Linked DNA regions of Homo sapiens: region 1 is linked to region 2. Evidence: fine-mapped expression QTL. A gene starts in region 2. The other region holds a variant in brackets. All regions are shown on one strand. Distances are from middle to middle.

The links. PIP is the estimated chance that this variant, and not a neighbour inherited with it, causes the effect.
Region 1: its variant is the best candidate, but not a certain one, in a credible set for the expression of ABCC3 in subcutaneous fat (FUSION, PIP 0.66).

What each region holds. Positions count from the first base shown.
Region 1 is chr17:51,047,901-51,052,288 of GRCh38, forward strand. All of the region lies in intron 3 of SPAG9 (sperm associated antigen 9), which reads right to left. Among named protein-coding and RNA genes, the nearest start is that of SPAG9, 71 kb to the right of the region's middle. The variant A/G (reference allele first, on the strand shown) is at 2,135.
Region 2 is chr17:50,632,356-50,636,743 of GRCh38, forward strand. ABCC3 (ATP binding cassette subfamily C member 3) reads left to right here and starts at 2,526. Exons shown (of 31, transcript NM_003786.4): 1 at 2,526-2,626. The coding sequence starts at 2,582. RefSeq lists a silencer at 2,496-2,545.

The DNA of each region.
Region 1 (4,388 bases), 420 kb after region 2:
AACCATATCCTTATGTGCTGATCTCTTCCATTTTAAAAGGAATTAACAGAATAAAGATCACTTTCAATTTAATTAATTTAATACCAAGAAAAGTTTCTTCTTTCGGTATATTTAGTTGAAAGAATGTTAAAATACTTTCTCCTTTGACTGTTACTGGTATCATTACTTGGTATAATCATCTATTATAACAGCAGCAAATTAATACAAATGTAAAAAATTAGAATACTTTTTGAGTCTTAGATAAGGAATCATATGACAGACAAGCTGAATAAGAAAGTAAAAACTTCAAGAATATAAAGTACATAAACTGCCAAGAACTTCTAATGTCCTATTTGATTCTTGATAATATATAGTTTCACTTTTAAAAAGCCTAAATTTGGAATTAAGACATAAAATCAAAAGGCCTTTGCTAGAGATACTAACATGATATGAATAAGAAAAAAATGAATTTTAAAAAACAAGAAATAGTGTGTTAGTATTTAAAGGGTGTAAATATTAAGAGGCAAGCAAAGGTTGATGTCTTTCTTGGGAATATTACTTGAATTCTTTTTTTTTTTAATGTCCCTTCTCACCATTCCTAAGGAATATTACTTGAATTCTTAACGCTGTACATAGAATAGCTTTGGAAGTCACTAAACTTTAGCTGTATTAAGATGCATTTCAATCTCTTTATAACTTAAAATATGCACTGTAGCATATTAAGTAACAAAATAAAATTTTTAAAAAGTTTAAATTCACTTTACAAAGCTTGCTTTTGTTGTAGAAATTTTATTTGGCATGTACAAATATTAGGAAATGTAAGTTAATTTTAAGATGTTATTTATCATCAAATAAACAAAAAGCTGAACTCTGATGCATGAAATAAAACAAATTAACCAGACTGTTCCTCAATGAAGACTAGTCCAAACAACAAATGTTATCCACAAAGAATGAAAACAGAATCACATGAATATAGTATCTTAAAATTTTTTAATTGACATACTTTTTATTTTAAATTTATAGATTTTACCACCATTTACACAACAGTTTTGGAGAAATACACCTTTCATCTATCAGCAAGTCAGAAATAATGAGCTTCCTTGTGTCAGGAAGAATTTTCAGGAACAAAAATCAAACTGAAACTAATATAACAAAGTGACTGTCAGGCTTAATCAATCTCAATTTAAATTTTCAAAAGGTTTTAGAAGGCCTAAATTAAGGCTTTGCAGTGGCTCACGCCTGTAATCCCAGCACTTTGGGAGGTAGGAGGTTTGCTTGAGGCCAGGAATTTGAGATCAGCCTGGGCAACACAGCAAGACACCAGCTCTAGAAAAAAAAATACAACAACTAGCAGGCACTCGCCTATAGTCCCTACTGCTCAGGAGGCAGAAGTGGGAGAACTGCTTGGACCCAGAAGTTCAAGGCTGCTGTGAGCTATGATCATGCCACTGCACTCCAGCCTGGGCAACAGAATGAGACCCCTCAAAAAAAAAAACCACTTTAAAAATAAAAGAGGTCAGGTGCAGTAGCTAATGCCTGTAATCCCAGCACTTTGGGAGGCTGAGGTGGGAGGACTGCTTGAGCCCAGGAGTTTGAGACCAACCTGAGCAACACAGGGAGACCCTGTCTCTACAAAAAAATTTTTAAAAATTAGCTGGGTATTTTGGGATGCGCCTGTAGTACCAGCTACTTGGGAGGCTGAGGTGGGAAGATCGTTTGAGCCAGGGAGATCAAAACTGCAGTGAACCATGAGTCTCACTCTGTCGCCCAGGCTGGAGTACAGTGGCGCGATCTCGGCTTATTGCAATCTCTGCCTCCCACATTCAAGCGATTCTGCCTCCCAAGTAGCTGGGTACTACAGGTGCCCGCCACCACACCCAGCTAATTTCTGTATTTTTAGTAGAGACGGGGTTTCACCATGTTGGCCAGGCTGGTCTCAAACTCCTGACCTCAAGTGATCCACCCGCCTTGGCCTCCCAAAGTGTTGGGATTACAGGTGTGAGCCACGGCGCCCAGCCGTGAATTCTTATATACACTGGATAGTAAAGTAATTGTATGTATGGGATTGATTTGTTCAAATGGAGGACCTAAGTTTCCTTAAGCATTCAGATGAAGAAAACAAACTCACCCCAGATTGCTGTATAGTAATCTATGA[A/G]CTCAATATAGAAAAAGAATGACAAGCAAAATGCAAAAATAGTTCTCCCCCAATAGCCATTCTACAGACTGATTCTCTATTATCTTATTCTAAACTTTCTTTTAATGACTAGTCCAATGTAATTACAGATATAGTATTCTGACATTCCAAAATTATCTATATAATGAAATCAATTCTAACTCAACCAAACTAGCACTTTAAAGGAAAGAACTGACAACCAAAAATGACTGAGGGGGAAAAGAAAAGAGAGAACAATAACAACAAAATGGCAGCTATTATTTATTGAGCACCAATTATAAGTCAGTCAGTGCAGTTACAGCCATTTTTTCTCCATTTAATCCTCACCATATCATGATTTCATAGGTAAACTCCAAGTTGATTGTCTGGTCAATGACTAACTTTTCAAGTTGTCACTAGCTTTGGGGCCAGAACTCTGGCCTGCCTGACTCAGTCATCTGAGTTATTAAGAATTACAGGACTCAGGCCGCCTTTGTACTTAATTCTCTGAGCAGGCAATGAGCCCATTGTCCTTTCTTCCTCATACCCACAAGAAAATCCCATACCCTAAAGCATTTCCTGATGTCTGGAATAAAATGATATGCACTATAGTCTATAAACACACAAAAAAGAACAAAAATTATACATAACAATTTAAATATTAATAAGGCCTCACAGTATCACTCAGGTTAAAAAAAAAAAAAGTGAGTGGGAGGGAGCACCAGTGTTGTTAGACAGAAAAGAGAAGTGAGAAAGTAAAATAGGACACGCTTCAGATAATCTATTCTTGGGTCCACCAGGTCCATTGCTTCTGGTCTCAGAACTGCAATTCTCAATTTTCTCAGGTATGCATATTAATTCACACATTCAGGAGTCAATTCAGCAATAAACAACTGAAGAGAGAGAGAAAAAGAGAGGAAGGAAGAAAGGAAAGAACGAAGGGAGGGAGGAAAGGGAAGGAAGGAAAGAAAGAAAAGAAAGGAAGAAAGAGAATTTAAAAATAAAAAAAAAACAAAAAGAAAAAGAAAGAAGGGAGGGAGGGAGGGAAAAGAAAAATGTCTAGTGGAACTAAAGGTGTAGTGTGTTTTTTTGTTTTGTGACGGAGGCTTGCTCTGTCACCCAGGCTGGAGTGCAGTGGCACAATCTCAGCTCACTGCAACCTCCACCTCCTGGTTCAAGCGATTCTCCTGACTCAGCCTCCCAGGTAGCTGGGATTACAGGTGCCTGCCACCATGCCTGGCTAATTTTTGTATTTTTAGTAGAAATGGAGTTTCACCATGTTGGCCAGGCTGGTCTTAAACTCCTGACCTCAGATAATCCCCCCACCTCGGCTCCCAAAGTGCTGGGATAACAGGCGTGAGCCACTGCACTCGGCCAAGGTGTTAGTGTTATTAAAAGTTCAGGGAGACTGGGTGCTGTGGCTCACACATGTAATCCCAGCACTTCGGAAGGCCGGGACGGGCAGATCACTTGAGGCCAGGAGTTTAAGACCAGCCTGGACAACATGGTGAAACCCAGTCTCTACTAAAAATACAAAAAGTAGCCGAGCGTGGTGGCATGTGCCTATAGTCCCAGCTATTCAGGAGGCTGAGGTGGGAGAATCACATGAACCCTGGAGGCGGAGGTTGCAGTGGGCCGAGATCACGCCACTGCACTCCAGCCTGGGCAACACAACGAGACTCCCTCTTAAAAAAAAATCAGGCAATAGAATCTGACAAACCTGGCTTCAAATCTAGTCACTAACTAGCCTAGAATTTGGGGCAAATCATTTTATAGACTCTTTCTAAACCTCAATCTGTAAAATGGGAATGGATGAGAATTTGGTCAAAGGATAAAATGAGAATGCATTCAAACACTCCCTGATGTGAGACTCTCCCAAGATTCCAAAGGGCTAAAGTTTTTGGTGATTAGCATACACATGTGGGCCCGAGTGCTTCAAAATTGTCCTTTATATTTCTTCCACTGCCCTCTTTAAGGCATGTCTTTTAAGCAAATTCAGTAATGTATACAAAAATTTGATTTAAGAATAGTTGACTATTTAAATTTAAGAATAGTTATTCTTAAATCAAATTTTAAAAAGCCACGGTAGGTTTCCCTTAAGCAACAATGAATGTGTTTCATAAAAGTGCTAAACAACTATTAAAAGACATTATCTTCTTTGGAAATAATAGTGAAAAGGTTAAGGTTAAACCCCTTCAGGCTTCCTTTCCCTGAATGTTTTCAGAGTTTATGTTTTAAGGGCGCCTAGTTCTTTGGC
Region 2 (4,388 bases):
ACTGCGCAGAAACAGTCTCCTCGGCAGACGTGGGGCGCCTCCTGCGTGTGCTGGGATAAGCTCTGTGGCGCTGAGCAAGCTGTAGGGTGTCTCAGGGCCTCAGATTTCTTGCTCTGGTGAGAACAACCAAAACAATAACATCCTAGAAATATTGTGGTTATTATTCAAGGGCTCTGTGAAAGGGGACACACTTCCTGAGTGGCCTGGAGGGGTAAAGCCCCAATACCTCAAGAGAGATGGGGGAAGGTGAGGATCGCTAAGGGCCCCCACCACGCCCTCAGAGTGCCCAACCCAGTGCTATAGCCTTGGGAAAGCAATAGCGATAGAAAAGCCTGGGGCTGCAAGGGATGGTGCTTCAGCTCCGATGCTGAAGCCAGAACCCAAGGGTCCTAGCCCAAAACTAGAGCTCCAGCCAGTGCACTGCCTGGCCAACTGTGGGGCTGGAAAGTCCCGGACGGAAGCTCAGGCTAGTTCTGGGCTCTCCATCTCAGAAAGGAGGTCTGATTGGGGAGCTCACCTCCCAAAGGGCCCTAAAGGAAAGTCCCCAGGTCTCCTCAAGCCCAGAGCAATCTGGTGCCTATGACCCCACAAGCCCTAGAAAAGGAATGGGAGAGGAGGGAGAGTTGGAGGAAGCCGGTGGGTAGACAAGGTCAAAACACAGGGGCAGTGGGTGCTGATGAAGCCATGACCAGGGTCATGGAAGGGGTGGAGGAAGGTTCCCAGCTGCCTAGGCCATAGAAGCCTGGCCCACCAGGGCTGGAAGAGAGCTTAGATATCACCCTGTCCACGTTTCTCAAGAAATGAAGTCCCAGAGGCATCAAGGAGCTTATTGAGATCACACAGTGTATAAAAGGTATGGAGGGGGATTGGAGGGGACTGAGTTAGTCCCTGCCCTTGGGGACCTCTCAGATTAGCAGGGAAGACAGACTCTTCATAACTAAATATAATCCAAGGCACGCCGTAACAAGGTGTAAAGCTCTGTAAAGTATTTTGCCCAGAGATGAAGGTAGGGGGACAGGAGAGGGAGGGTATGTGTGGATGAGTGGAAAGGAAGAGGGCAGACAAAGAAGGGGCTGAAAGAACTTGCCCAGTGGAGGGGTAGAAGTCCCTGGTCTGACTGCCTGGGAAAGGGGAATCTTCTCCACTCCCACCCCTATCCCATGCCCAGCCAGATCTTGGTTCTGATAGCCTATAGCCAAGGAGACTTCCCTTCTAGTGACCTCCTGGCTGCCCAGAGAGATAGGAGGTGGCTTGCCCCTTCTGCACTCTTACTGGCTCCCACCCACACCTGCCGCTGAGCAGCCAAGGAAGGAAACACCTTCTCTTGAGAACAAGGGCCAGAAAAGGGGTCACCGGGGTGAAACTGGACAGACCTGTGGGCAAAGGCAGGGAAGAGAAGGGCCAGGGAAAGATTTGCCAGGGAGAATTCCTTCTGAGCCCCAACAAGCGGTGCTGAGTTGGCGTCTGGGATTGTGTTAAGGAAGACAGGGCAACAGCGGGATTGAGAGATGGAGGGATCCCCGCATCTGAGGGGATACCGGGAGAAGGAGAGCTGAGGCAAGCAGGAGAAGGAGAGCACTGACAAGCCCATTTTACAGATCAGGAATGTAGAGTTTCAGCCTTAGGAGGAGGACGAGGACGAGGACACTCACGTGGGGCTCCTCCTGGGGCTTCACCTGTCCTTCCCCCCCCAACCCTGATCAGGCTGAAGCAGAGGGAATTCACACATGTTGGGTGCCCACTAAGTGTGCCAGGAAATACGCTTTGCCTACCCTTTCCATTCAATCCTCAGAGAACCCTGGGAGGAAGATTCTCTTCTATGATTGTCTCTATTTTACGGATGTGAAAGTAGAGGCCCAGAGACGTGCCGAGGTGATGTGGCAAGGTCAGGGAGCCACAGAGCCTAAGAGGGCAGCAGTTTAAGAGGACATAAGAGGCCCCCGCTGGACGATGCTGCGGCCCCCACCCCCGCCTCACGGGTACACACCCGCGGAGCACACCCCGTGTGCTCCCCGTGTGGCGCCTGCCAGTGGTCTCTGGAACCTGATGGGGAAGAGGTCAGCTTCCTGATTGAGCACAGAAGCCCTTCCCATTTTACAGATGAGGAAACTGACCTCCGGAGAGGAACGTGACCTTCTCAAAGATTCCTTTTTTACTAGGAAAGATTGTTAAATCCCTCTCCCTACGTCCCCTACTCAATGACTCATCGGCCCCACGGACTTGTTCGGGAGTGGGAGCGCCTGTGTATCCCAGTTCCCCCTTGGAAATAGACTCGACTCCTGGACTGTTAGCCTCGGTATTTAGAGAGACATCCCCCTGGCTTGGCCCAGGGGCCGCTCGCAGGGGCTGTCGCCGTGCCAAGGGCCCCCCCACCTCTGCCCCAAAGTCCCTCCCAGGGAGGCGCTGTCGCAACCCGCGGGACGGGGGCAGGGAGACCGGACCCAGAGGCACTGGGGTAGGGCTCGGCAGGGCGGGTCCGGGCGGAGCGCGGGGTGCGGAGGGCGGAGGCGGCTCCGGCGCCCGCTCTGCCCGCCGCTGGGTCCGACCGCGCTCGCCTTCCTTGCAGCCGCGCCTCGGCCCCATGGACGCCCTGTGCGGTTCCGGGGAGCTCGGCTCCAAGTTCTGGGTAAGGCGCGGGGCTCCGGGGTCACTGCGCGGGGGCCAGGGTCGGCCGGCTTCGCCCGGTCCCCGCCGCCTGCCTTCCCGCGGGGCCGGCAGGTATCCCGGGACGGAGCCCCTGAGACGGCCTGGGCGCCCGGGAGGGGGCGATGGGCTCGGGAGGGAGGTTGGCTGCGCCGCCCGGAGCCGGGTCCCACGCGGTGTCGGGGACCTGCCCTGCTCTGCCCTTCCCGGCTGCAGCACTGGGGAGCCCGGGAAAGTGAGGAAGAGTGCGCGGCTGGGGCGCAAAGGCACAGTGCGTGGCTGGGTGAGTCGGCTCCATCCCAGCCCCTCCGTCGGGTGCGGAAGGGGCGTTTCGCAATCAGCCGCGGGTTCCTGATGGAGGGTCTTCCCTCAGCATCTGCCTCAGGTTAGGACTCGGTTGCCCACCTGGGCATGGATTGCCCCCAGGGCATCCAGAGCACCTGCTCAACCAGGTGTTTTGGGAGGCCGGCTGTGCAGTGTCCCACCCTTCTTAGGAAGGTTTCCTGCCACCTTCTTTTCTCTAGGTAAGACTGAGGTCTGAGAGCAGGCCATCCCCACCACTCCGGACTCAGAAGGGAGAAGCAGACCCCAGTCTGGAGACAGGTGCAGGGTGTCAGGATTCCTGTAGTCCAACTCCCTTCTCACAGATGGAGAAAGGGAGGCCCAGAGAGAGGAAGGGACTTGCCCAAAGTTACCCAGTTCAATGAAGGCAGAGCTGGGATAGAAAAACAGGCTACAGGCCAGGTGCAGTGGTTCACGCCTGTAATCCCACCCTTTGGGAGGCAGAGGTGGGAGGATCACTTCAGCCCAGGAGTTTTAGATTACTGTGAGCTATGATCGCACCACTGCACTGTGGCCTGGGCGAAAGAGTGAGACCCTGTCTCTAAAAAAATAAATAAATAAGAAAAGAAAATCAAGCCTTTGGTGACTCTCACTCCAAATCTCTTTCTAAGACAGGCTGCTCTTCAGCCTGCTGACTCCAGCCTCCAGCACAGTTCAGGTGAGCTAAGTGCATACAGCCTAGGAGCTTTCTTACCAACTTGCAAAACTTACTTGCCTCTATGAGGCAAGTGATCATGTGGTCTCCGTTTTACAGAGGGAGCTCAGATTAAAGGTGCTTCTCTGTGGTCATTAAAGGGGTGTCCAGGGCTTGTGAATCCCAATCTCTAAGTCTTTTCCTATTTTGAGTATTTGTACATATATGCCCTTTGTGTGTGTACGCACACACGCAGGCACGTGGGGTGTTACCCAAGAGTTCGTGCTGTGCACGTGTGTGCACAGGTGTATAAGTCTGGAGCTATGCTCTTGGGCTGTGTTTAGAATGGGCTGAAGGCGTTATATGGATTTTTTGAAACTTGGGGCAATGGAGGTAAAAAAAAAAACTGTAAAAAGGCATATTTGGGATTCTCTCTTTTTCTGTGGGTGACCCAAAGGTTAATCCGAGATGGTGCAACTTCTCTGCCACTGCCCTTCTTTCCCAGTCCCACAGGAACTTCATGTATTATTCAGCATGGACAGGCCACTTGCCACCAGGGTCCAGAGGTTGTGCCTTTGCCTCATGAGCACACTTCCTTTCACTGCCCTTTGGGCCAGGCTGGTATGACCGTGGCAGGTTTGTGGTGCCTGGGATGCCAAACAGAAAATCAAGAGGGTAGTTGTGCCCAAGCTTCAGGCACAAGGGCTCATTGTTCCTGGGTAGCCTCCTGAACCCTGAGAGCTTAGGACTCTACAGAGACAGGTCTCCT